Linked DNA regions of Homo sapiens. The protein of the gene in region 1 interacts with the protein of each later gene in a biochemical or structural test. Each region holds a gene or a part of one and is shown on either strand. Other genes may lie near its edges. The genes, in order: FZD2, APBA2, ARHGAP21, MAST2, LIMK2, HTRA1 and LDB3.

Evidence for each region.
Region 2: the proteins of FZD2 (region 1) and APBA2 interact in a test that uses a peptide from one of them, tested with the Homo sapiens proteins (one large-scale study listed by IntAct).
Region 3: the proteins of FZD2 (region 1) and ARHGAP21 interact in a test that uses a peptide from one of them, tested with the Homo sapiens proteins (one large-scale study listed by IntAct).
Region 4: the proteins of FZD2 (region 1) and MAST2 interact in a test that uses a peptide from one of them, tested with the Homo sapiens proteins (one large-scale study listed by IntAct).
Region 5: the proteins of FZD2 (region 1) and LIMK2 interact in a test that uses a peptide from one of them, tested with the Homo sapiens proteins (one large-scale study listed by IntAct).
Region 6: the proteins of FZD2 (region 1) and HTRA1 interact in a test that uses a peptide from one of them, tested with the Homo sapiens proteins (one large-scale study listed by IntAct).
Region 7: the proteins of FZD2 (region 1) and LDB3 interact in a test that uses a peptide from one of them, tested with the Homo sapiens proteins (one large-scale study listed by IntAct).

Annotation. Positions count from the first base shown.
Region 1 is NC_000017.11:44,556,108-44,560,283, forward strand, and holds the start of FZD2 (frizzled-2 precursor), read left to right. Parts: upstream 1-1,376; 5' UTR 1,377-1,581; coding exon 1,582-3,279; 3' UTR 3,280-4,176. UniProt on the Homo sapiens protein: Receptor for Wnt proteins.
Region 2 is NC_000015.10:29,053,474-29,056,973, forward strand, and holds part of APBA2 (amyloid-beta A4 precursor protein-binding family A member 2), read left to right. Parts: intron 1-371; 5' UTR 372-411; coding exon 412-1,362; intron 1,363-3,500. UniProt on the Homo sapiens protein: Putative function in synaptic vesicle exocytosis by binding to STXBP1, an essential component of the synaptic vesicle exocytotic machinery. May modulate processing of the amyloid-beta precursor protein (APP) and hence formation of APP-beta.
Region 3 is NC_000010.11:24,615,888-24,619,387, reverse strand, and holds part of ARHGAP21 (rho GTPase-activating protein 21), read left to right. Parts: intron 1-3,500. UniProt on the Homo sapiens protein: Functions as a GTPase-activating protein (GAP) for RHOA and CDC42. Downstream partner of ARF1 which may control Golgi apparatus structure and function. Also required for CTNNA1 recruitment to adherens junctions.
Region 4 is NC_000001.11:46,033,617-46,036,622, forward strand, and holds the end of MAST2 (microtubule-associated serine/threonine-protein kinase 2), read left to right. Parts: intron 1-185; coding exon 186-322; intron 323-456; coding exon 457-650; intron 651-921; coding exon 922-2,450; 3' UTR 2,451-2,506; downstream 2,507-3,006. UniProt on the Homo sapiens protein: Appears to link the dystrophin/utrophin network with microtubule filaments via the syntrophins. Phosphorylation of DMD or UTRN may modulate their affinities for associated proteins. Functions in a multi-protein complex in spermatid maturation.
Region 5 is NC_000022.11:31,274,798-31,278,297, reverse strand, and holds part of LIMK2 (LIM domain kinase 2), read right to left. Parts: intron 3,148-3,500; coding exon 2,990-3,147; intron 1,862-2,989; exon of another isoform or gene 1,510-1,861; coding exon of another isoform or gene 1,158-1,509; exon of another isoform or gene 660-1,157; intron 2-659; coding exon 1-1. UniProt on the Homo sapiens protein: Serine/threonine-protein kinase that plays an essential role in the regulation of actin filament dynamics. Acts downstream of several Rho family GTPase signal transduction pathways.
Region 6 is NC_000010.11:122,506,553-122,510,052, reverse strand, and holds part of HTRA1 (serine protease HTRA1 precursor), read right to left. Parts: intron 3,363-3,500; coding exon 3,168-3,362; intron 2,684-3,167; coding exon 2,651-2,683; intron 1,398-2,650; coding exon 1,283-1,397; intron 1-1,282. UniProt on the Homo sapiens protein: Serine protease with a variety of targets, including extracellular matrix proteins such as fibronectin. HTRA1-generated fibronectin fragments further induce synovial cells to up-regulate MMP1 and MMP3 production.
Region 7 is NC_000010.11:86,713,511-86,717,010, forward strand, and holds part of LDB3 (LIM domain-binding protein 3), read left to right. Parts: intron 1-2,816; coding exon 2,817-3,261; intron 3,262-3,500. UniProt on the Homo sapiens protein: May function as an adapter in striated muscle to couple protein kinase C-mediated signaling via its LIM domains to the cytoskeleton.

The DNA.
Region 1 (4,176 bases):
TTAAAATCCTAGAAGGGAAAAGAAAAATTCTAAAAGTAGCAGGAACCCTGCTGGCCACACCCCACCCCTTACCAGGTGAGAGATGTGGAGGGGATAATTCACCACAACCCCCCAGTTTCCTCCCGCGTCACACACGCCACCCCTCTCTGGTGTGGAACCACTTAAGATTTGGGTAAAACTCCCCTCTCGCCCTGGAGACGGGATCTGGAAGCTTTTAGGGGGCGGAGGTAGAGGTGGGGAGGCAGAAGGAAAATTCCCTCAAACGTTCGTCAGGCCTAAGAGAGTCGTCCCTTCACTCAAAATTGCCCGTCACCCCCCGCCCCCCACCATTAACTTTCGATTAAGACCTCCTCCTTAGGGCAACTAAACTTTACTTTGCACAATTAAGATTTGCCGCAGAAGAAGCGGGAGGGAGAAGCCGCAGCTCCGGGCCATTCTCCTTTCCCTCGCTCCCTCCAAGCCCCCCGCCCCAACCCTCCAGCTCCGGGCCTCCGAGTTCCTGAGTTTTCTCACTTTGAGGTGCCACCGAACACAAAGAACCATAATGGGCTCCTTTGTGTTGGCTACGGGGCAATTACGCCTCGGAGTCCTGGTCCCTTTAAGAGTCTCTTAAAGAGACAGGATCCCATTTTTCAGAGGGTTTTTTAAGGGTGTGTGGAGGGGGAGGGCGAGGGATCTACGTGTAAAGTGAAGTGAAACTTTCGCCTGGGCTCCAGAAAGAGCGGACAGAAAAGGTCTTTGTAAATTGTTAGTTTTTTTAAAGTCTGTTTTAATTTTTAAATTTGAGATTTTTCACTCGATTTGAAAAATTGGACTAGGAATAGGTGGGGTTCGAGGATCGGGGGCGGGGGCAAGGGTTTAAAGAGTCCCCACCCGGCAGAGCACCTCGGCCCGGGAAGAGGAGTGAGCCAGGGTCGAGTAGTGTCCCCCGATCTCGCCGCGGCAACTCCGGAGAAATCCCGGGCTGGGCAAACAGCCCTTAATATAATAATAGCTTGTCTCTTTAAAAAGCAAAAGGGGGGGAAAGTTTTGTTGGCATCTGGTTTCTGATCTCATTATGTTGTGGTCGACCAATCCAGCCCTCGGGCCTGGTCCTCGGGTTTAAATCTGATTGGCCGAGAGCACATTTTGGGTTGGTGCTTAGAGCTCGACGGGGCGGTTTCAAGGATCCCTTTTTTGGGGGGCTGAGGAGAGGGCGGGGCCGCCAGCGGGGGCCCCCTTGAAACCGACTAATTGGGATCGGAGAGGCCGAGGTGAGGGCTGGAGGAGGCACAAAGAAGTCGCTGGGTGCAGAAGGGAGGGGAGAGGGGGAGCTGAGAGGCGAGAGGAGGAGGAAGAGGAGAGAGGGCAGCAGCGCGCGGTGTCTCCGGCTGCTCAGTCCGACCGCGGCAAGCAAGCGGGCAGGCGCACCGCCCCCTCCCCCGCCCGGCCTCCCCAACTCTGCGGCCGCGAGTAAAGTTTGCAAAGAGGCGCGGGAGGCGGCAGCCGCAGCGAGGAGGCGGCGGGGAAGAAGCGCAGTCTCCGGGTTGGGGGCGGGGGCGGGGGGGGCGCCAAGGAGCCGGGTGGGGGGCGGCGGCCAGCATGCGGCCCCGCAGCGCCCTGCCCCGCCTGCTGCTGCCGCTGCTGCTGCTGCCCGCCGCCGGGCCGGCCCAGTTCCACGGGGAGAAGGGCATCTCCATCCCGGACCACGGCTTCTGCCAGCCCATCTCCATCCCGCTGTGCACGGACATCGCCTACAACCAGACCATCATGCCCAACCTTCTGGGCCACACGAACCAGGAGGACGCAGGCCTAGAGGTGCACCAGTTCTATCCGCTGGTGAAGGTGCAGTGCTCGCCCGAACTGCGCTTCTTCCTGTGCTCCATGTACGCACCCGTGTGCACCGTGCTGGAACAGGCCATCCCGCCGTGCCGCTCTATCTGTGAGCGCGCGCGCCAGGGCTGCGAAGCCCTCATGAACAAGTTCGGTTTTCAGTGGCCCGAGCGCCTGCGCTGCGAGCACTTCCCGCGCCACGGCGCCGAGCAGATCTGCGTCGGCCAGAACCACTCCGAGGACGGAGCTCCCGCGCTACTCACCACCGCGCCGCCGCCGGGACTGCAGCCGGGTGCCGGGGGCACCCCGGGTGGCCCGGGCGGCGGCGGCGCTCCCCCGCGCTACGCCACGCTGGAGCACCCCTTCCACTGCCCGCGCGTCCTCAAGGTGCCATCCTATCTCAGCTACAAGTTTCTGGGCGAGCGTGATTGTGCTGCGCCCTGCGAACCTGCGCGGCCCGATGGTTCCATGTTCTTCTCACAGGAGGAGACGCGTTTCGCGCGCCTCTGGATCCTCACCTGGTCGGTGCTGTGCTGCGCTTCCACCTTCTTCACTGTCACCACGTACTTGGTAGACATGCAGCGCTTCCGCTACCCAGAGCGGCCTATCATTTTTCTGTCGGGCTGCTACACCATGGTGTCGGTGGCCTACATCGCGGGCTTCGTGCTCCAGGAGCGCGTGGTGTGCAACGAGCGCTTCTCCGAGGACGGTTACCGCACGGTGGTGCAGGGCACCAAGAAGGAGGGCTGCACCATCCTCTTCATGATGCTCTACTTCTTCAGCATGGCCAGCTCCATCTGGTGGGTCATCCTGTCGCTCACCTGGTTCCTGGCAGCCGGCATGAAGTGGGGCCACGAGGCCATCGAGGCCAACTCTCAGTACTTCCACCTGGCCGCCTGGGCCGTGCCGGCCGTCAAGACCATCACCATCCTGGCCATGGGCCAGATCGACGGCGACCTGCTGAGCGGCGTGTGCTTCGTAGGCCTCAACAGCCTGGACCCGCTGCGGGGCTTCGTGCTAGCGCCGCTCTTCGTGTACCTGTTCATCGGCACGTCCTTCCTCCTGGCCGGCTTCGTGTCGCTCTTCCGCATCCGCACCATCATGAAGCACGACGGCACCAAGACCGAAAAGCTGGAGCGGCTCATGGTGCGCATCGGCGTCTTCTCCGTGCTCTACACAGTGCCCGCCACCATCGTCATCGCTTGCTACTTCTACGAGCAGGCCTTCCGCGAGCACTGGGAGCGCTCGTGGGTGAGCCAGCACTGCAAGAGCCTGGCCATCCCGTGCCCGGCGCACTACACGCCGCGCATGTCGCCCGACTTCACGGTCTACATGATCAAATACCTCATGACGCTCATCGTGGGCATCACGTCGGGCTTCTGGATCTGGTCGGGCAAGACGCTGCACTCGTGGAGGAAGTTCTACACTCGCCTCACCAACAGCCGACACGGTGAGACCACCGTGTGAGGGACGCCCCCAGGCCGGAACCGCGCGGCGCTTTCCTCCGCCCGGGGTGGGGCCCCTACAGACTCCGTATTTTATTTTTTTAAATAAAAAACGATCGAAACCATTTCACTTTTAGGTTGCTTTTTAAAAGAGAACTCTCTGCCCAACACCCCCACAAGGTTTGTAATTAAAACTGTAAATAGTCTTTGTAAATTTAATTATATATATTTTCTATTTAAAAGAAAAAAGGAGAAAAAAAAACAGGGGTGTGGGCGCCAGGACTGAAGAATGAGGTGTGTGTGTGTTGGGGAGTGTAGTTGGGGGGAGGGTTCTCTTTCTTAAGTGCCCTTCAAAACCCGCCCCACTTTTGGAGTTTTTTGGTGATATGGCAGGGCTGGGCCTGATGGGAGAGGCACCCAGCCTGAGCGCTGTTTTTGTTGGCTTTGAGTCGTTAGGAGTTTGTTCCATTCAACTAATATAAAAGCCAAATTTGTGAGCCTCCTCTCTGACGCTGGGCCTGTGGAAGCCGTTGGATATTTTTGAACAGGACTTGGATTCGTTTTGTTTCCTTCCCCCTTTTCTTTCCCTACTCATTTGTCCTGTCTTCTTCACTCACTCTTGGAAAAGTCCCAACAGAGATGAAGACGTGGAAAAAAAAATCGGGGTCGGGGTGTGCTGGTGGGGAGAGGGCAGAGATCCGGTGAGGAATGGCTTCCACCCCCTGGCCCATTCCCCTGCAGGCTGGAAGATCTTTCTCCTGTCTGGCTTCTCTTCTTTTCAATTCGCTGCACCAAGTGCTTCCAGTGGCCCAAAAATGCTTTTTGAAGTGTGTTTTGAAACAGCCCCCACCAACATACACCCCACCAGGAGTACTGATCCTGCCTCCCTTCATGTCTAGGGGAAGCATTCGCCTTTGAG
Region 2 (3,500 bases), on another chromosome or scaffold:
CTCATTTTCTTCGTGAGAGCAAACAACCTGATCTTCTGACCATTTGTCTTGGTCACCTGGGCTACCCAAACTGAGTGAGAAGTCAGGAATGAGCCGGTAGGTTCCTGGGGAGAGGCGTGTGTCCTCGTGAGTTGCCGGTGCCTCCCTTGACTGCTTTTCCCGGAGCTCTGTGTGCCCTCGTTCTCCTTGGTGTGGATGCGTGTTGTTCTGATGATGAGTTAGCGGGGGTGGGGATGGCGCACTGTTTGAACAGATGTGCCCTCACATGGCTGCGGGAGGACGTGGTGGGAGGTGCTGTGGTGAAGTGGCCCCACACATGGCTGGGCTTTGTGGGGTTTTGACTCTGTCCTTCCCAATGTTCCTCCCCACAGTGGCTGCCTCCGGGTGATGATGGCTGTGTGAACGACTGCCATGGCCCACCGGAAGCTTGAGAGCGTGGGGAGCGGCATGTTGGACCATAGGGTGAGACCAGGTCCTGTCCCTCACAGCCAGGAGCCCGAGAGCGAGGACATGGAGCTGCCCTTGGAGGGCTATGTGCCCGAGGGCCTGGAGCTGGCTGCCCTGCGGCCAGAGAGCCCCGCGCCAGAGGAACAGGAGTGCCACAACCACAGCCCCGATGGGGACTCCAGCTCTGACTACGTGAACAACACCTCTGAGGAGGAGGACTATGACGAGGGCCTCCCTGAGGAGGAGGAGGGCATCACCTACTACATCCGCTACTGCCCTGAGGACGACAGCTACCTAGAGGGCATGGACTGCAACGGGGAGGAGTACCTGGCCCACAGTGCACACCCTGTGGACACTGATGAGTGCCAGGAGGCGGTGGAGGAGTGGACGGACTCGGCGGGCCCGCACCCCCACGGCCACGAGGCTGAAGGCAGCCAGGACTACCCAGACGGCCAACTGCCCATTCCGGAGGATGAGCCCTCCGTCCTTGAGGCCCATGACCAGGAAGAAGATGGTCACTACTGTGCCAGCAAAGAGGGCTACCAGGACTACTACCCCGAGGAGGCCAACGGGAACACCGGCGCCTCCCCCTACCGCCTGAGGCGTGGGGATGGGGACCTGGAGGACCAGGAGGAGGACATTGACCAGATCGTGGCAGAGATCAAGATGAGTCTGAGCATGACCAGCATCACCAGCGCCAGTGAGGCCAGCCCCGAGCATGGGCCTGAGCCAGGGCCTGAGGACTCTGTAGAGGCCTGCCCACCCATCAAGGCCAGCTGCAGCCCCAGCAGGCACGAGGCGAGGCCCAAGTCGCTGAACCTCCTTCCCGAGGCCAAGCACCCCGGAGACCCCCAGAGAGGCTTCAAGCCCAAGACCAGGACCCCAGAAGAGAGGCTGAAGTGGCCCCACGAGCAGGTAGGACCCTGGCTGTCCTGGGGAAGGGAGCAGAGGGGCCCGAGAGCAAGGGACCTCAGGGTACAGGCCTTGCAGATGCTGAAGCGAGGCGGTGGGGGGTGCTGGGTGCCTCACAGTTCTAATGGTGGCTGAGCTCTTCATTGGTCCAGTTGGGAGACATGTTGCGTGGATGCTCCGGCCACTCTTAAGCTCACCGCTCAGACTCAGGACTAAAGCCGGTTGAGGGCTGAGTGGCAACTCGTGTCTCGCAGAAGACACCCCTCCTCCCACCCTAGAAGAGAGGTTCGATTTCTTGCCCACTGCCCTGGTCTGCTCATGGTGGGGCAGTATGTGTGGGAGAGCCCCTCAATCCTCAGGGGTGTACTCAGACCAGCAGGGCAGTGGCAAAGACGTGGGGGTGCTGGTGCTCACCCACTGCTGCGGCCAGTGTTGGGTGGCCTGGTGGCTGGGGTCGGGGCCAGAGTGCATTTCACAATGGACGGGTCTCTGAAAGCCCGGGGGCCTTGGCCTGATGGGCAATCAGCTGTGAATACCTATTTGGAAAAGGATTTTTTGAAGGTTTGACAAAACCTCGGGGAAGAAACGCATGCTAATGAGGGCAGTGGATGTCAGCATAACTGTATTTTAATTATAGCAAAGTCAGCGTGCATTCTAATAAACACATTTGAAAAGCCACCTTCCAAAAAAAGCCTCACTGTGAGTATATAAAGAAGATGTGATTATTGGACTTGTGTGAAGGAACTTCTATTTGGCCAATTATGTGGACTTCTGTCATATTTTTTTACAGCCTTAACTGTTAAATATTTTTTTCCGAGAAGAGTTCATGAATTTGAGTGTGTGTGTGTGTGTGTGTGTGTGTGTGTGTGTGTGTGTGTGTACTGAGAGCTTGGGTTTGGAATGGAAATCATTGGATTTTCAGCACTTATATTTTAATTGACTCCTGGATTTTCAGCACTTGTATTTTAATGTCTTGTATTCTCTCTAAAGAACGTTAAGTGTCAGTTGACTTCACTTTGGGGGTGTTCCTGTCATTCACAGCAATTCCGTGTTTACAGGGGGCTGTGGGATGCATAGGAGCTCCCATGGTACTAGTGGGTGTTGGGAGAGTTCACCCCTAAGGCCAGGAGGCTCTGGACCCTGGGTCTGGGCTTTAGGCCAAAGCAAAGTGTTTCTTTGGTCTTTAGCAGGGCCTGGGCTTGTCCCACAACAGTGGTGAAGGCACCTCAGGGATTGACGTGGGCTGTGCAGAGCGTGTGACATGCTGCGTCTTATTGTGACAAATGGCATCGCTAGCCAAGTTCTTGTCAAAGAAGATTATCTTTAGAGCGTGGTGGGGAGTAAGCAAGACCTGATATTTTCTGGTTTTGTGCTTCATGCTAACCAGATGGTAATTTGGGTAAAAACACAGAGATCTTGCGATTGGAGAGCTGGGAGGTAAATGAGTGGGAATGAATGGATGGATGGGTGATAGTAGCTGTTTAAAAGGGCAGGTGGAGGTAGGGGAAGTCCCCAGCCATTGTGGAGGATCAAGAGGATGTCTGTTCTTCCCAGAAGAGGCATTGAATGAAAAAGTATGTCACTTCTCCCCCTAAGGAGAATGTGTCCTTGAAGGACATGCTCTTGTCTGAGACACTGGAAAAGTTCATTTAAACTGGTTAATGATTGTATAGCTTTTGTTTTGTTTTGTTTTTCCCTCCCTCCCTCCTTTCTGTCCTTTCCTCCTTTCCTCCCTTCCTCCCTTCCTCCCTCCCTCCCTCCCTCCCTCCCTCCCTCCCTCCTTCTCTCCCTCCCTCCCTCCCTCCTCTCTCTCTCTCTCTCTCTCTCTCTCTTTCTTTCTTTCTTTCCTATCAGTTCACAAATTAATTCTGTCAAGGGGAACACCTGCTAGTTCCAGAGTTCCAGGCTGACAAGTACCCTGGTGCCAGGGGCCCTGACTACTCTTTCTGAAGACTCTACCAGGCCCGCTGCACGTGGGCAGGGTCTCCACATTCTTAGATTTGAGTACCCCATTCCAGATGAGGACCTCTTTGAAACCTGACCAGAAAGAGCCGTAGAATTCATCTTGAAAGCAAGATTTTTTATGAAGGATGTGCACTGGGAGATTTGGTGCTGCCTTGCTTGAAATAACAACCTGCTTT
Region 3 (3,500 bases), on another chromosome or scaffold:
AGAAGTCTTACACTGTGATTTTAAAATGTTTCTAGTGAATCTCATAAGCTGTGCTTCAACCAGAGCTTTCACAAACCTCTTTAAAAGTTATTTCTAGTACCAATTTTCCTTTTTTTAAAAAAAAAACAAAAACTTCATGTACCTAGTACCCATTTCAAATTTTTATTTTGATGAAACAAATTCCTGAGATTAAGGAAATCAGCGAAGCAAATTATACCTAATTGTTGATTCAGGTGAATGAAAAACCAAGTGGAACAGTTTTGATAATTAGTTACCAACCTTTCATTTAAACAGTGCTTTTACTTTCTAAAACATATTTCTTTGTAAATTTAACGTGTACTGAGAGAAAAGACCTCTTCATTGTCAAGTTAGTTTGCCATACTATAAATCCTGGAACAGATTTAGAGAAGTTACTTAAATTATAAGCGTGTGCCACAGTTGCCGGCACCTGTCCTGTTGAGTCTTCTGTCTGCTCCCTCCCACCCCAGATCTGTTCTCCATACAGCAGCCAGTGTGATGTTTTTAAAAATGTCAATTAGATCACACCACTCCTCTGTGCAGAACCCTCTGTTTCCTTCCCATTCATCTCACCCAAAATAGCATGCAAAATCCTCCCGTGATCTGAAAGGCCCTCCATGGTCTGCCTCACAACTCCCTCTCTGATGGTGTCAGAGAGATCCTACTTCGTGATCTCCTATCACAATCTTCCATGTGCATCCCATCTGCAGCCTCACCAGCCTCCTTGCTGTCAGGTGTGTGTTGCTACAGGGACAGGTACAGCTGGTTTCTAACCCTGGTATACATTCCACAGATAGTTAACAAGCCTCTGTCTTCCTCATGACATTTGGGTCTCTGCTCAAAGATCTTATCCAAGCAGGCTTTGTGACTCACCTATCTAAAACAGGTATCCCACGCACAGACACAGAAACGGACATTCTCTTCCCTTAAGCTTTTTTATTTATCTTCGTATTACTGTTTCCACTTGACATGTTTTGTTTTTTTGTTACATGTTTCTCAGTAGAACTAAAACATAAACTACATGAGAGCAGAGATTTAAAATCTTTGGTTCACTTTTGTGTCCCTAATGCCTAGAACACTGCGTGGCACATAAAGAATTCACTCAGTAAGTATTTGTTGAGATAATGGCTGAAAGACAATTTTGAAATGCTGGTTAAATGTATAGCACAACAATACAGTTCTCATCATGACTGTGCAGCTCTAAAACATCATCTGCTAACAGGTGATGACTTATGTCCTTAATATTATCTTCATTTTATAAGTGAGAAATTTAAGGTATAGAGAGGCTAAATAACATCTCTAAAATCGCATAGTAAGTGATAAGAGACAGGGTCTCTAGGTTTGCCTCATTCAGCCTCGTCCCAGAGCACAGCTCCAGGGAGCACGCCATTTATATGGAATGCCTGTGAAGAGCGCCCCCTGGAGGCATGCGATGCAGGGGCTTTTTTCCTTCTCTTTTTGCCACCAACCAAGGCCATACTTGTAGTCCCCCTGGTGTCCCATGGGTTTATGAAAAGAGTTCTCCATCATTTTACAATATAATATGCTTCTCTTTGAGTACTAGTTGAGTTTTTCTTTTCTACGGGAACATTTTTAAAGCTGTTGAGGACTGTTGTTTCTTTTCTACGGAAACATTTTTAAAGCTATCAATTGTAAAGCTATTGATAGCTTTAAAAATGTTTCTTGAGAAAACACTTAATTGGATAGGTGACACTAAAAGCTTTTTTAAAAAGTTCCACACAGCTTATGTTTTTTTTTATAAATCGGATATATTCAAGTTGTCAACATTGTGGGGAATCTCAACCTAAATTGTACCCATATTCATATCTATACCCCTAAGGCCAAGCTCAGCAAATAGTAGACTCCTGTTGTAGATGGAATCTTATACATCATCTAGAATAGATATTTTATAGAAGGCAACTGATGACGAATGATTGTTTTATGAAGTTTTAAAATGTAAAAAAATCTTACAACCTGTGGCTGTTTCACAGGCCCATGCGATCTTATCAGAACAGTGGCATCATATTTTCTTCCTACATAATAACAACAATATAATCAGATTACATTGGAGTAGTAAAAAAATGTGCTGGATATATCTGTTAATATTTCTTCCTAGTTATGAAGTATAGAAATAAAACAATTATGTTATTAAAGAGAAGATTTTGGCTAAAATAGAAAATAAAGATCTGTATAATTCTATATACATATAGATTGATGTAAATAAATAATTTTATTTACTAAGAATAAAAGTACTCTCTAATTAGTTCCTATCTTATTTGACTTTCGCCCTCCTTCCCCCGCTGCTCACCTTCTGCTGTGCGGCCCAGCTCCTAACCGGCCATGGACCAGTACCAGTCTGCAGCGCAGGAGTTGAGGACCCCTGCTATATACTAAGGTTGCAGGAGGCATACAGGCATACAAAACAAAATGAATACATTTTGTTTTTAAATTTGGAATATTACTCATTAACAGTATTTTGTTTACTGTTCCCACCCCCCACTTTATAAAGCTGCATAGTAAGTCCTGAAAATAAATTTCAACTTCTTTTATAAGTAAACACAAACCTCAACAATGTGAGCTGTTCATGAGTAATCTCACGGTGAATAGCAGATATTACAATGTGTTCTAAAATCCTGACTTCCTACACTTCTCTAATTTATACCACTCATTACTAGTAATACAAAAATGCTACGACTGTTACCTACACTCAGGGTTTCATCTTAACTTTCTTTCTCCATAGTTTTGTCATATCTCTTAAGACTCCTCCTCCATCTTACCCCAACATTGGCTGCGTGTGTGCTCAGTTGAGGGTTAGCCCTAAGTTAAATTGAATTTGATGGTCACAGCCTTATTGGCACTGCCATATCAAGATGATTTAGAAGTGTTAGATTTGGTAAGATATAGCTGGATTACATTGTCCATACAGGGGAACTTAGCTCCCTGAAATTTACCCAAAGGGAAGAGGTGACCATTCCCTATACCCAGTTTCTCCCTTTGGGAGCTCTGGGCTCAGTGCCAGTGGTGATATGACAGGACGATGCAATGAGCACCCAGCCCTTCTTTAATACTAATTCAGGCTGAGTCTTAGCAAATAGTCTGTTTATAAAGAGAAATCATATACTTTATCATCTTACATCTTTTATAAAGAGAAATCATGTACTTATCATCTTTATATGTCTTTTTCATATATTGGCTTTTCCCAAAAATGTGATGCCATTGGTACTTAAGCTTAGAGATTTTTGCTTCCACTATTTGAGTAACGATGTGAGGTAATTTAAAAAATAATAAAATAGTCCGGGTGCAGTGGCTTGCGCCCGTAATCCCAGCACTTTGGGAGGCTGAGGCAGTCAGATCACTTGAGGTTGGGAGTTCAAGACCAGCCTGGCCAACACAGTGAAACTCCATCTCTACAAAAAAAAATACAAAAATATTAGCTGGGCGTGGTGGGGTGCCTGTGAGCCCAGCTACTTGGGAGGCGGAGG
Region 4 (3,006 bases), on another chromosome or scaffold:
GGGCTCCAATGGGAGCCATTTCCTCATCTGTAAAAACAATAATATAGGCCTGTGGTTCAGATGTGTTGGTGCAGGGACAAAAAGCTGGAGCTGTGGTATAGCCATGCCAGAAGGGAAGGATTGGGGGAGGGGAGGGGCAAGAATATGGCTCCAGCTTAGCCTAGGCCTCATGCTCTGCTCCCCAGAGTGGAAACAAGGTGGCCATTTCAACAACTCCCCTGGAGAACACATCCATTAAAGTGGGGCCAGCTCGGAAGGGCAGCTACAAGGCCAAGATGGCCCGAAGGAGCAAGAGGAGCCGCGGCAAGGATGGGCAAGAAAGGTGAGCCAGGCGCAGTGAAGAGGGTTTTCTCTGAGCCACATGAGTGCTGGTACGTGGTGGGTGCCTTGGCCCTGGGGGTCCAGTGTGTGCTGTGCTCACTGCACCGACTCAGCCTTTGACCCTTATCCCCGCAGCAGAAAAAGGAGCTCCCTGTTCCGCAAGATCACCAAGCAAGCATCCCTGCTCCACACCAGCCGCAGCCTTTCTTCCCTTAACCGCTCCTTGTCATCAGGGGAGAGTGGGCCAGGCTCTCCCACACACAGCCACAGCCTTTCCCCCCGATCTCCCACTCAAGGCTACCGGGTGACCCCCGATGCTGTGCATTCAGGTACGAAGGGCTCCCTGCAGATCAGTGACAACCCCTGGGAAATAGGAAAGTTCCTAGGCCCTGTGTGCTTCTGACAGATCCCACTCTGAGTCTCTCATTTAGCCCACCCCCTGAAAGATCCTGTAGTCTTGGGGAGGAATTAATTGATGGGGAAGGGGGTAGCTTGGTTTCTGGGACATAACAGGGCTAAGCCCTGTCTTGCCCTTGAGTCACTTCTAACAGCTAACACTGCTCTGCTTTTGTCTGTCTGTCTGTCTGTCTCTGTACAAAGTGGGAGGGAATTCATCACAGAGCAGCTCCCCCAGCTCCAGCGTGCCCAGTTCCCCAGCCGGCTCTGGGCACACACGGCCCAGCTCCCTCCACGGTCTGGCACCCAAGCTCCAACGCCAGTACCGCTCTCCACGGCGCAAGTCAGCAGGCAGCATCCCACTGTCACCACTGGCCCACACCCCTTCTCCCCCACCCCCAACAGCTTCACCTCAGCGGTCCCCATCGCCCCTGTCTGGCCATGTAGCCCAGGCCTTTCCCACAAAGCTTCACTTGTCACCTCCCCTGGGCAGGCAACTCTCACGGCCCAAGAGTGCGGAGCCACCCCGTTCACCACTACTCAAGAGGGTGCAGTCGGCTGAGAAACTGGCAGCAGCACTTGCCGCCTCTGAGAAGAAGCTAGCCACTTCTCGCAAGCACAGCCTTGACCTGCCCCACTCTGAACTAAAGAAGGAACTGCCGCCCAGGGAAGTGAGCCCTCTGGAGGTAGTTGGAGCCAGGAGTGTGCTGTCTGGCAAGGGGGCCCTGCCAGGGAAGGGGGTGCTGCAGCCTGCTCCCTCACGGGCCCTAGGCACCCTCCGGCAGGACCGAGCCGAACGACGGGAGTCGCTGCAGAAGCAAGAAGCCATTCGTGAGGTGGACTCCTCAGAGGACGACACCGAGGAAGGGCCTGAGAACAGCCAGGGTGCACAGGAGCTGAGCTTGGCACCTCACCCAGAAGTGAGCCAGAGTGTGGCCCCTAAAGGAGCAGGAGAGAGTGGGGAAGAGGATCCTTTCCCGTCCAGAGACCCTAGGAGCCTGGGCCCAATGGTCCCAAGCCTATTGACAGGGATCACACTGGGGCCTCCCAGAATGGAAAGTCCCAGTGGTCCCCACAGGAGGCTCGGGAGCCCACAAGCCATTGAGGAGGCTGCCAGCTCCTCCTCAGCAGGCCCCAACCTAGGTCAGTCTGGAGCCACAGACCCCATCCCTCCTGAAGGTTGCTGGAAGGCCCAGCACCTCCACACCCAGGCACTAACAGCACTTTCTCCCAGCACTTCGGGACTCACCCCCACCAGCAGTTGCTCTCCTCCCAGCTCCACCTCTGGGAAGCTGAGCATGTGGTCCTGGAAATCCCTTATTGAGGGCCCAGACAGGGCATCCCCAAGCAGAAAGGCAACCATGGCAGGTGGGCTAGCCAACCTCCAGGATTTGGAAAACACAACTCCAGCCCAGCCTAAGAACCTGTCTCCCAGGGAGCAGGGGAAGACACAGCCACCTAGTGCCCCCAGACTGGCCCATCCATCTTATGAGGATCCCAGCCAGGGCTGGCTATGGGAGTCTGAGTGTGCACAAGCAGTGAAAGAGGATCCAGCCCTGAGCATCACCCAAGTGCCTGATGCCTCAGGTGACAGAAGGCAGGACGTTCCATGCCGAGGCTGCCCCCTCACCCAGAAGTCTGAGCCCAGCCTCAGGAGGGGCCAAGAACCAGGGGGCCATCAAAAGCATCGGGATTTGGCATTGGTTCCAGATGAGCTTTTAAAGCAAACATAGCAGTTGTTTGCCATTTCTTGCACTCAGACCTGTGTAATATATGCTCCTGGAAACCATCTTTATGTCTTTTGCTTGCTTGTTTTCCTTCGGTCAACCCACATGTAACTAGGTCCTGTGTTGCTGCTGGGAATATAGTGGTGAATAAAACAGTTTCCACCACCAGGGGAGGGCCACCTAACCCAGCTTGACTTCCCAAAGGCTTTGACATTTGAGCTCAAACATGAAGAATAGATGATAGGTAGTAGTTTGCTGGGTGTGGAAGAGTGGAGGTTGGCATAAGAAAGGCTGTCCAGGCAACGTTTAGCACATGCAGTATACCTGGCATAGTCAAGGAACCAAAGATAATTCAAAGTAGAAACGGGTCTGGCAAGTGAGGCAAGGGCCATGTCTAATGGTCTTCCAGGAGATTTGACTTCGTGAAGGTGATGGGGAACCAGAAAATACCATGTAGCAACTAAAATTCCTTCATAGATAAGGGCACTAAGACTTTGATGCCCATGGTAATACAGTAGCTTGGGTAGAACGGGGGTTAGAACGTAGGTCTCCCTTGGACTCC
Region 5 (3,500 bases), on another chromosome or scaffold:
TCTAGAAGGAAAAGAGGTAAATTAGAGGCAGGTGGAACATGAGCAGGGCCATGGGGTGGGTGGAAGGGATCTAGGCTCAGCTACTTCCTGGTTGTATAACGTCAGGCAAACTCCTTCACCTAGTAGTGCCTCTGTGAGAAATGGGCATAATGTTACCGGTACCTCATATATTTGCTATAAAGATTAGGTAACACTATAACAAGGCTGGACTAGCTGGAGTTAATACTTAAAAACAATAGGAGAAAAACTTCCCTCCCATATCTTAGAGAAAATGCAGTTATCAAAGGTGGAATCGGAAACACCAGGCTCCTAGTGCCACGGAAATGGCTTGGCTGCCCCGGAAGCCTAAGACAGCTCAGGCTTACTCCTCCTCCTCCATGTTTATGCTTAAATGTCATGTCACCTCAGTGAGGCCTGCTCTGACGACCATATTTAAAATTGCAACTGGTACCCTGAACAATCGTCTTTACTTGTCTTGACTCTTTTTCCATAGCATCTGCCACATTCTAATATTCAATATAGTTTACTTATTGTATCTACTGTATGATACAGTAGATACCATGCTAGAATCTATGTTCTATGAGGGTAAGCACCTTTATTTTGTTCGCTGCTGTAACCCAAGTGTTTAGAACTGTACCTAGCACACAGTAGGCATTCAATACTGTATATATATATTTTTTAATAAATTAAAGATATTTAGAATGACAAGAGGTATTAGAAAACAAATACTGTGTAGCTTCACAATTTCTCCTCAAGCTTTTACACTGGTGTTACTGAAGGACTGCGGTCCTTGGCCTATAAAGGAACAAGGTATAGATTCTCCCACCAGAAAATTTCAACTCTAATGTGGACCGCTGGAAATCATTTTTTTTTTTTTTTTTGAGCTGCACCAAAGGCGTACCCTACCTCGCTTTATTAAAGGGCCCGTGCCGCAGAGTCAATATAAAAACACAAAGTCCCATCAGTTTAATAACAATAAAAAAATCCAAAAGTGGAAAACTGAGGGGGCAGGGGAAGAGACCCCTGGGCCAGGGGCACGAGGAGCCCTGCTCATGGAACCAGGCCTGGCCGCAGGGTCCCCCGGTATTGCTGTTGCTACGAGGTCGGGGGGTAGCGATTGTCCTATGGGAGCCACCGTTCGCCTGGGTCGGGGACCCTCACTTCTTCTGGGGTGTGCTCAGCTTCTGCATGGCCCGGATCTTGTCCAGCAGGCCAGAGATGAAGGCCTCTGTGGGTTTGTAACAGTCAACCAGCAGCTCCTTGACCCTGGAAGCCCAGGCATCGTCACTCTCCATGTCCAGGAGCTCATCCACGTCAATCTCTAGTTCTGAGATCTCCTCTTCCTGGCAGTCGTAGAGGCGCGTGAGCTGCTCCAGGATCCACTCCTCTAGGTTGAGGTGCTTCCGTAGCTCCTTGGGGTCATACTTGATGGTGACCTTCCCTTGGCGCCTCACTGGGCCCTCATCATCCGCGCAGCCCGGGCCCTCTCCTGCGGCCCCGGGGGGGGCTCTGAAAGTAGATGCGTGGTCCTTGGCCGCCACTGCCTGGCCTGGGGGCCGGGGCCGGGGCCGCCAACGCCGCGCCCCCCGCGGTGCCGCTGTCCGCCACGGCGGCCTCCGGGGCCACGTGCGCGCGTGGGGCCCCTCCTTGTGCCGCCGCCTCCGTGACGCCCGCCGGCTGGCTCAGGTTAGCTCGCCGGCTCCGCGGCGAGGGCGGCGGCGGGGGCGCCCGGGGGCAGCTGCAGCATGCGGAGCCCCCGGGCCTGGCCTGGTCGCGCCCCGCCCCCTCCCCGCCGATCCGCCCGCCCTTTGTCCCCTGCGGCCGCCGCCGGGGCTGCCGCCGCCGAAGCGCTTTCTCTATCCGGAAACCATTTTTAAATAAAGATTATGTCCCAACTGGTTATCCTGGGAGGGTGGAGTTGGGGGTGAGGAGAATGTTGAGGGATATATTGGTTAAGGGAGATTACAGAAGACGTATTTCCTGTGCTATAAACTTTGGTAATGTTTGAACTTGTTTTTAAAAGAAACATGATTTTTGATGGCAGGAAAAGAACCCCATTTTTGAGACAGAGTTTCACTCTTGTTGCCGAGGCTGGAGTGCAATGGCGTGATATCGGCTCACTGCAACCTCCGCCCCTGGGTTCAAGCAATTCTCCTGCCTCAGCCTCCCAAGTAGCTGGGGTTACAGGCACCTGCCACCATGCCTGGCTAAGTTTTGTATTTTTAGTAGAGATGGGGTTTCACCATGTTGGCCAGGCTGGTCTCGAACTCCAGACCTCAGGTGATCCACCAGCCTCAGCCTCCCAAAGTGCTGGGATTACAGGTGTGAGCCATCGCGCCCAGCCAGATTCTCGTTTTTTAACCACACACTTGAAAAGACCTAGGGTAACTTTGGTAATAATGAAATTATTACCTGAGAAGAATAAAGGTAATTTTGAAAATACTTCCTCAAAGGAGAAATTAGCTAAATGCATAAAACTGCTCACTGTAGTTAAATACCTATTGTAAAGAGAAACTGGAAAAACCTGAACATCTACATTACAATATGTTCAGACAGTCTCTCAATAGAATTTCATGTTGTCGACAAAAATGATAAACAGGAAGACTGGATAGTAAACACAAGGGAAATGCAGGGCAAAATACAGAACTATTTACTATAAAAAAAAGTATATGTGTAGATATGGACAGGGGAATATCGAAAGATGAATACACTTACTGTATTCAAATGGTTTGGGTGAATTTCCTTCTTTTAAACTTTCTTTTAATGGCTGTGTTTCTGTGTCCTATCCAGATTACTTGCTGCTATGTCTTTACCTCTCTCTTCTCCAACCTGTACATATGTGTTGTCAGATGGCTCAGGGGTTGACAGCCACATTCTTGACCTCAAGGCTTCTCTCACCCCTGTGCTTGCAGAGGGCTCAGGGGTGGCCTTAGACAGAGGCAAACGTCCCAGGACCCTGTGAGCTGGGAGAAAAAGGCAGGATACCAACCTGCTCTCAGGCTCCAGTCTGCAGCAGATGGCGGCCAGCGGGAAGAAGGCCGGGGGACAATCTGTGGGAACAAACTTCTCCCAGAAAAGCTTCACGTTGAGGCCAAAGTCCAGTGTTCGGGGAAGGCAGTCAGGATCTGCATACACCTGCCCAATGATCTGTAGGGTAAGAAGACAGCTGTTTACAAAGGACTACAGAGGCCACAGATACTTGGCAAGGGAAAGGGATGCTGGGATGTGGACAGGAAGAATGGCAGAAGAGGAGGTGGTAAAATAGGTTAGAGAGCTCTCCCCAATCCCCAATCATCTCTCCAAATCTTACTAATCCAGACCTGTATCCACTGAGAGCTGGGTTACTGAAGAGGACTAAGAAGGGGCTTCACTGCAGAAGCCAAGTGTTCCAAATCAGCATCTGCTCCTAGCTTCCACTCATCCTACCCTGCCTTGTCTGTGTCTCCTTGTGGCTGTGTGTGTGTGCCAGAGTTAAGGCTCTATGAGGTGCTGGATCTGAT
Region 6 (3,500 bases), on another chromosome or scaffold:
TGGGGGTGCTGGGGACACCAGGGGCCGGGGGCCCAATCCCCCAGGTTGCAGGAAGGGCCACAGAAGGGTACACTGAGGTTGCGGCTCAAATCCTGGTCTGGACCCCTCCCCTCTGGGGGACCTTGGGAAAGTCCCATTGTTTCAATTAATGGTCAGGTACCTGGGCATGACCCTTAATTCCTCATGGCCTCATCCTGACAGCTGGCCCTTCCCCAAGCTTGCTCTACCCCCCATATATATCTGGAATGTGACCCCTCTGTCCCACCTCCACTGCCACCACCCTTGTCTGAGACCCCAGCATGTCTCATCCAGATGGCTGGGAGAGCCCCTTAACCGGTCCCCAACTTCCAGCAACCCCTCCAGCAGACTCCCCGCAGCCATCAGAGTGTCCTTTCAGTGACATCAATCAGATCATAAACTTCCCTGTTCTTAAATGTCGTTAGGATGCAACCCAGGTCCCTCACCACGGCCTGCTGTGAGCCTGCTCGCCCGGCCTTGGCCTCTTTCCACCCCGGGGAACTCCATGCTGTCACTGTGCTCCGGCCCTCAGGCCACTTCAGGGGCCTTGTGCTCACTCAACTATGCTGAGTCCTCTGTCTTTCCTTCTGGAGTGTTCCCCCCACATCCCTGCCCGCTGGTTCCTCCTCACTCAGACCTCAGCTTGGAAGGCATTTCCTGGCCACACCATCTCCACCAGCTGCCCCTCCAGTCGCTCCCTTGACGGCCACCCTGATCCGTTTTCTTGGGAGCACTAATAGTATCTTATGTGTTTGATTATTTACTGTCAGCCTTCCCATCCCCCAACAGAACATAAAAGTCACACCGGCAAAGGCCCCTGTTGAGCCCCAGGCCCCAGTTGAGCTGTCCACTGCCAAGCTCCCTGCTTGACTTAGAGCAGATGGGGCAATAAACGTTTGCAGAATGATCTCCCTGAACCGTTTTCTCATCAGCAAAATGGGACTAGTAATTCCTAACTGATAGGGCAAAAGAATTAAGTGACATACATAAAGAAAGTGAAATAATGTACACAAGTCACCTAGGATCATGCCTGGTACATATTAGACTGACTCAAGTGACATTGCCATGATCAGAGGACAAAAATGGTGAAATGTCTGTGACCTTCTGCGAGGGATTTAGTAATGTGCATTCCCGTTCACTTCTGGATCAGAGACGGCTTGGCTAGTCCTAGGGGCTGCCGCTTTTCCCTTCCCCAAGTCCCAAAGGGCAGCTGAGCTTCAGGCCCCATCTCCGGAGTCCCCAGGGCTGTGTGGGCCTTGCCTACCTTTGGCCTGTCGGTCATGGGACTCCGTGAGGAACTTTTTAATCTTATCAGATGGGATTGCAAAGGAGATTCCAGCTGTCACTTTCAAAGTGTTAATTCCAATCACTTCACCGTCCTGAAAAGCAAGAAGGACACGGCTTACTGAATCGTGAAGCTTTACCGGCAGGTACACACCCAGAGAGAATATGCCTGAAAGAAGTCCCTGAGCTATTTCAGAGATCGAAGTGGGGAGATGCAAGGAGGGGATCCCCGTGGCAGCAGGGAGAGAGGCATCAGGACACCCAGGCAGCGCGAGCCACGCGCAGCTGTGGAAGAATCGCACATACTCCAGGTCGGCACTGGGTGCTCACCTCACGGTAAGCACAGATAGTTTCAAAATGCACGATATGATTTGCTCCTGTTTCACAAGGAATACGTTTCCAAAGGCTCAAACTCCTTTAGGTGGCTGCCCACACCTTCCTGCTTCTCCCATGTCTAATGATCTTAAGATGACTCTGCTGACTTCAGGGGGAAACAACCCTAGAGCTTAGGGCTGTCATGCTTCATTACCAGCAAAGCCATCTCCACTCCATCCCCAAGTGCTGCGCGGGGAGGCAGAGGACAGAGCTGGGAGCACAGCTGCCCCTCTGCTGGGAAGAGAAAGCTGCCAAGTGCACACTTCCCAGGAGTGCTGAGATGTCAGTACCTGATGCCAAGGCACCATCTAGGAGGTGCCATCACACTGGGCCTTGCTAAAGACAGCCCCTATAAATGGCCCCAGAGCTGCCCTCTATAAATGGCCCCAGAGCTGCCCTCTATAAATGGCCCCAGAGCTGCCCTCTAGCTCTGCTGGTCTGTGTTCTAAGGCTTCACTTTTTCTGCTCAAGTATTTAAGGGAAGACTTAAGTGATATCTTTGTGGGTGGGTAACTCCTCCTCATTCCAGCCAGGCCTTAAGGGAGGATTCCTGGCCAAGAGAAAATGTGTATGAGCCCAGCCAGCTCCTTCAGCAGCCCAGGAGATTTAATTTGGAGGAGGTGCTTTCGGTGACTGGCCAGCATTTTTAGTGACCTTCACCTTACTCCTGCATTGGCCCTGAATTTCACGGTGTTTACCTGTAACTCTGAGACACAAGTGTGTTCTCTGGCATAACATTTCCAACCCTCACCTCCGGCCTGCCTTACTCTTTCCAGAAAAGATCCGTAGGGTCATTTGCAAGCACGCAGTACATTTACAGAGCCATTTTAAAGGAATTTATAATACACTTTGGCAACCTTATGTTTGAAAAGACCCCCTGCCTCAAAAACAAACAAACAACAAACAAACAAACAAAAAACAGCGTATACATAGATAAAAACAAATGACCTAACATAGGTTTAAAAGACCTTACCAGGTTTACTAACGGGCCTCCCGAGTTTCCATACTGCAATTAAACAGAAATGAAAAGGTTACAAATCGTGTCATAACATGGTTCAATCTATGTCCCTGCCTGGTCGTTTCCTGAGCACGGTGCCTAGAGTGGGGGGCACGATTCTTCTCTGAGATTCATTCCCATTAACCTAATATTTTGCCGGAAAAAAATGACCTTAACAATTTTCAGAAAGTTTTAGAGGTGCCGTAAACAGGGAGATTTTCTCTCTGAAGCCCAGAAGCCAACTGCAATCACCCTAAAGCACCCAATACAACTTCTTCCTCCTGGGAGGAGGCTGGCTGTCCACCTGCTCCGGTGTCACCGTCCCCGCCATGTGACCCCTGCCATGCTGCTGGCACTAGAATCCACATGGCTTGGTCTAGTTCCATCCCTTCACGCAGACTACAACAAAGTCAGGGGCTAAGACCTATGCTGACTCCTCTCCCCCTGGCAAAACTCTGCCCCAATCCCCACCCGCAGAGGGACAGAGGCTCACGTTGATGATGGCGTCGGTCTGGATGTAGTCCATGTCTGAGTTGCGGAGCCCCAGCTCTTTGCCGCCTCGCTGGGTGGTGCTCACGATCCCGGTGGTGACTGTGTTTTGAAGGGAAAACGGGCTTCCGATGGCGACCACGAACTCTCCCGGCCGCAGCTCTGAGGAGCGGCCAAGCAGCAGGACAGGCAGCTTGCCCTGAAACCACAATGGCTGGCGTTGCTGAGTTGGTTTAATTTAACCAAATAGGTAAAGGCACAGATATCATGGAAAACCAAGCAGGGACAGTGACGGGCTATTTGGAAACACCAGGCCCGGTGGGGAACTGAGCTCACA
Region 7 (3,500 bases), on another chromosome or scaffold:
CTGGGATTACAGGCGTGAGCCACCGCGCCCAGCCAATCTTAATCTTTTTTAGCAGAGAATTGCACTTCACAAAGAAAGGAAAGAAAATGTTGCACAGAACCCCCTTATATATAACAGAGGGATGAAGCTGCTCTGAAGTTGTGCTAGATCACCTCTCCCTGCTCTCTGTCCCTGGTGGTGTTCCTGGAATCACTTCTTCCCCCAGCATTTTGATATTCTCTGCAAAGTTGTTAGGGAGGGTGACAATACCTCAAATTTGGGCTGTACACATTTACAAAATCCATTCACTATGTCACCCCAGCAGGTCCCCAGCATGCCCTGTGGGGCAGGCAGGGTGTCAGGCATTCCACCACCACTGAATAGACCTCAGTCTCAGGTTATCTGACTTCAGGATGTTCCATTTCCCTTCCCTCCTCTCCCCCAACCCTAGGCGCTACCAGTCTAACTGGGCTGGGCTTCCCTAGGTGAGCAGCAGGCCATGAGACAGGCTGACAGTACATCTGACCCTGACACCCAGGTTGCCCCCATCCTTGCCATCCTCACTCACATTTAGTGACACACTATGCCAGGTACTAGGCTACGCTCTTTATATTTCTTACCTTCCCTTAATCCTCATAATAACCTTGTGAGATACTAAGAATCAGTATTGCCAGTTTTAGATGAAGAAATTGAGGCCCAGAGAGGTTAAGGAACTTGCCCAAGGACACAAAACCAGGAGGTAGTAGAGCTGGATCCTGCAGCCAGGGCTCTTGGCTATGCTATCAAGACTCCACAGCAGGGGGTCTCCTTCATGTTGAAAATGACTCCTCCCTGACATGTTGCACTGAGATTTTCTAGAAATTGGACTCATATTCTTTACAGAGGCAGCTTGGGATGATAGAATGAATGGATTTGGAGATGTATTCCCACTTACTAGCTCTGTCTGAGCCTCAGTGACCTCAAGTGTAAAGAGGGAATAATGTGAAGACCGATTCAGATGACAGATGCTATGTGCCTCGTTACCCCTAAAGGGGAGGAAGATTCCTTATGGAGAAGGTATTATCTTTTTTTTTTTTTTTTTTTTGAGATGGAGTCTTGCTCTGTTGCCCAGGCTGGAGTGCAGTGGTACGATCTCGGGTCACTGCAAGCTCCGCCTCCTGGGTTCACGCCATTCTCCTGCCTCAGCCTCCTGAGTAGCTGGGACTACAGGCACCCGCCACCACACCCAGCTAATTTTTTGTATTTTTTTAGTAGAGATGGGGTTTCACCACATTAGCCAGGATGGTCTCGATCTCCTGACCTCATGATCTGCCCACCTCAGCCTCCCAAAGTGCTGGGATTACAGGCGTGAGCCACCATGCCCAACCGGTATTATCTTTTGAAGGCCTCACTGGCAGGATGGCTCCAGGGCAGGGCTGTGGAGGGTTTTATCTCTTCTTCCTTCAACAACATGGATGGATCCTATCTACCTGGTCCCTACTCACCCCCAGCACAGGGATTTCCAGCTCACCCAGCTCTGAAGGGTGGGTCACCTGGGAGTGGAAGGTGCAGAGTGGGAGCCACAGGCTGCCCCAGGCGGTCCAGGGGAACCAGGTGGGAAAGAGAGACTGGAGATGGGGCCAGGGTCTTAGGCCCTAAGGAAAACCTTCCTCTCCAGGTTGAGGCTGGAGTATGGGGTGGGGGGCAGAGGCGGGGTGTGGGTGCAGGGACTGCCTCAATGCAGTCCATCCTGCCCATACTGAGCTCAGGAATGGGGAGGGAGGCTGTGCTGACATGCTTCCTAGGGTTGGGGGAATGAGGCCTCTTTGCTGAGGAGCAGACTGAAATGTGGTGAGGCTTCTGGAACCTCACTCACTGGAAGAGGAAGCCAGCTGGACCTTGCCTGCAGGGTGCAGCTGGGTCTGCCCTGGCTAGGTGTTGAGGGCCCAGGCGGGAGAGGGCTGTGGGTAAGCAGTGGCAATGCTTTTTCTGTGCTGTGAGCCCAAAACGTTTTTCTGCTCTCAGGGAGCTGGAGGAGGGGGTGATAGAAGTGAGGTGGTGCATTCTCTTCCCTGTGCTCTGACTGCCTGGGCAATCTTTAGACAGTCACTCAGACACACTCTCAGCTTCCACCAAAGCGATGTGGGAGTACAGGGGTCCCCCAAGGCAGCCACGGGCCAAGTGAGCAGCTACTTCTAGGCTGTGTCACCCTAGAGTCTCTGCCCAGCACCCTCTGAATGACTCCTTCAAGATCCCCCACCCTAATCAAACCAAGACGGAATTGCCCCCCAATACAAATCAAGCCAAGCTGTTTTTCAAGAAAGTAATTGTAGCTAAACCTGAAACCTGAACCTGAAAACCCAGCTACCAGGTCACCTGTTTTGTCCTGAGGGCTGACCTAGGTCCAGGTTCAGCAAACTTATGCCAAGGGAGGTATTTCAGATGTCAAATCACTGGTCAGAGTGCAACTGAAAGCATCTTGCAGTCAAAGGCGAGGTGACCCACTCCCACCTCTCCCCGCCCAGGTACCCCCACCCCCACTCTGCGTCTTATGCAGGCCTTGGGCAGTCAAGGCCTGGCGGAGCCCCACCCTGCACAGCTGCAAATATTTATAGCCATGTCCCTTTTCCAGCCCTGTCGAGGGTTCTGCTGTGCTTGCTCCCTAGCTCTGTGAACACCCTGCTGAGAATTCAAATCTGGGCCATCAAGAAGTTCAGGAACAAGTCTCCCAAAAAAACTGAAATTGTACTGCTCTAATGTTAAAGTCACCTTTTGCATTTCTCTGGCTAGGAGTGAGGGGAACTGGGAAGAATGAATTCCTGACACACCTTTCTTTGGGTTTTTTTTGGCTTTTGCAGTGCCTGCATCTACCTACAGCCCGTCCCCAGGGGCCAATTACAGTCCCACTCCCTACACCCCCTCCCCTGCCCCTGCCTACACCCCCTCCCCTGCCCCTGCCTACACCCCCTCACCTGTCCCCACCTACACTCCATCCCCAGCACCAGCCTATACCCCCTCACCTGCCCCCAACTATAACCCTGCACCCTCGGTGGCCTACAGCGGGGGCCCTGCGGAGCCTGCCAGCCGTCCACCCTGGGTGACAGATGATAGCTTCTCCCAGAAGTTTGCCCCGGGCAAGAGCACCACCTCCATCAGCAAGCAGACCCTGCCCCGGGGAGGCCCAGCCTACACCCCAGCGGGTCCTCAGGTGCCACCACTTGCCAGGGGGACCGTCCAGAGGGCTGAGCGATTCCCAGCCAGCAGCCGGACTCCACTCTGCGGTCACTGCAACAATGTCATCCGGTATGGTCCAGCTGTGCCCCTGCACTGGGGCACTGGAAGGGCGTGTGTGTGGGGTGCTTGCCCACAGTCTGAGCCCTGGTTGGGAGAGATGGGGGTAGGAGGCAGGTGTAGGGAGAAAGCCTCGGGTCCTTCTGGCTTGCCATCTGGTCTTACCTCTCTGAGCCTTAGCTGCCATACCTGTGTGACACCCACTCTCCCAGGGAGCTGGGAGGAATGGCATGAGGTATGTGGGTGAAGCT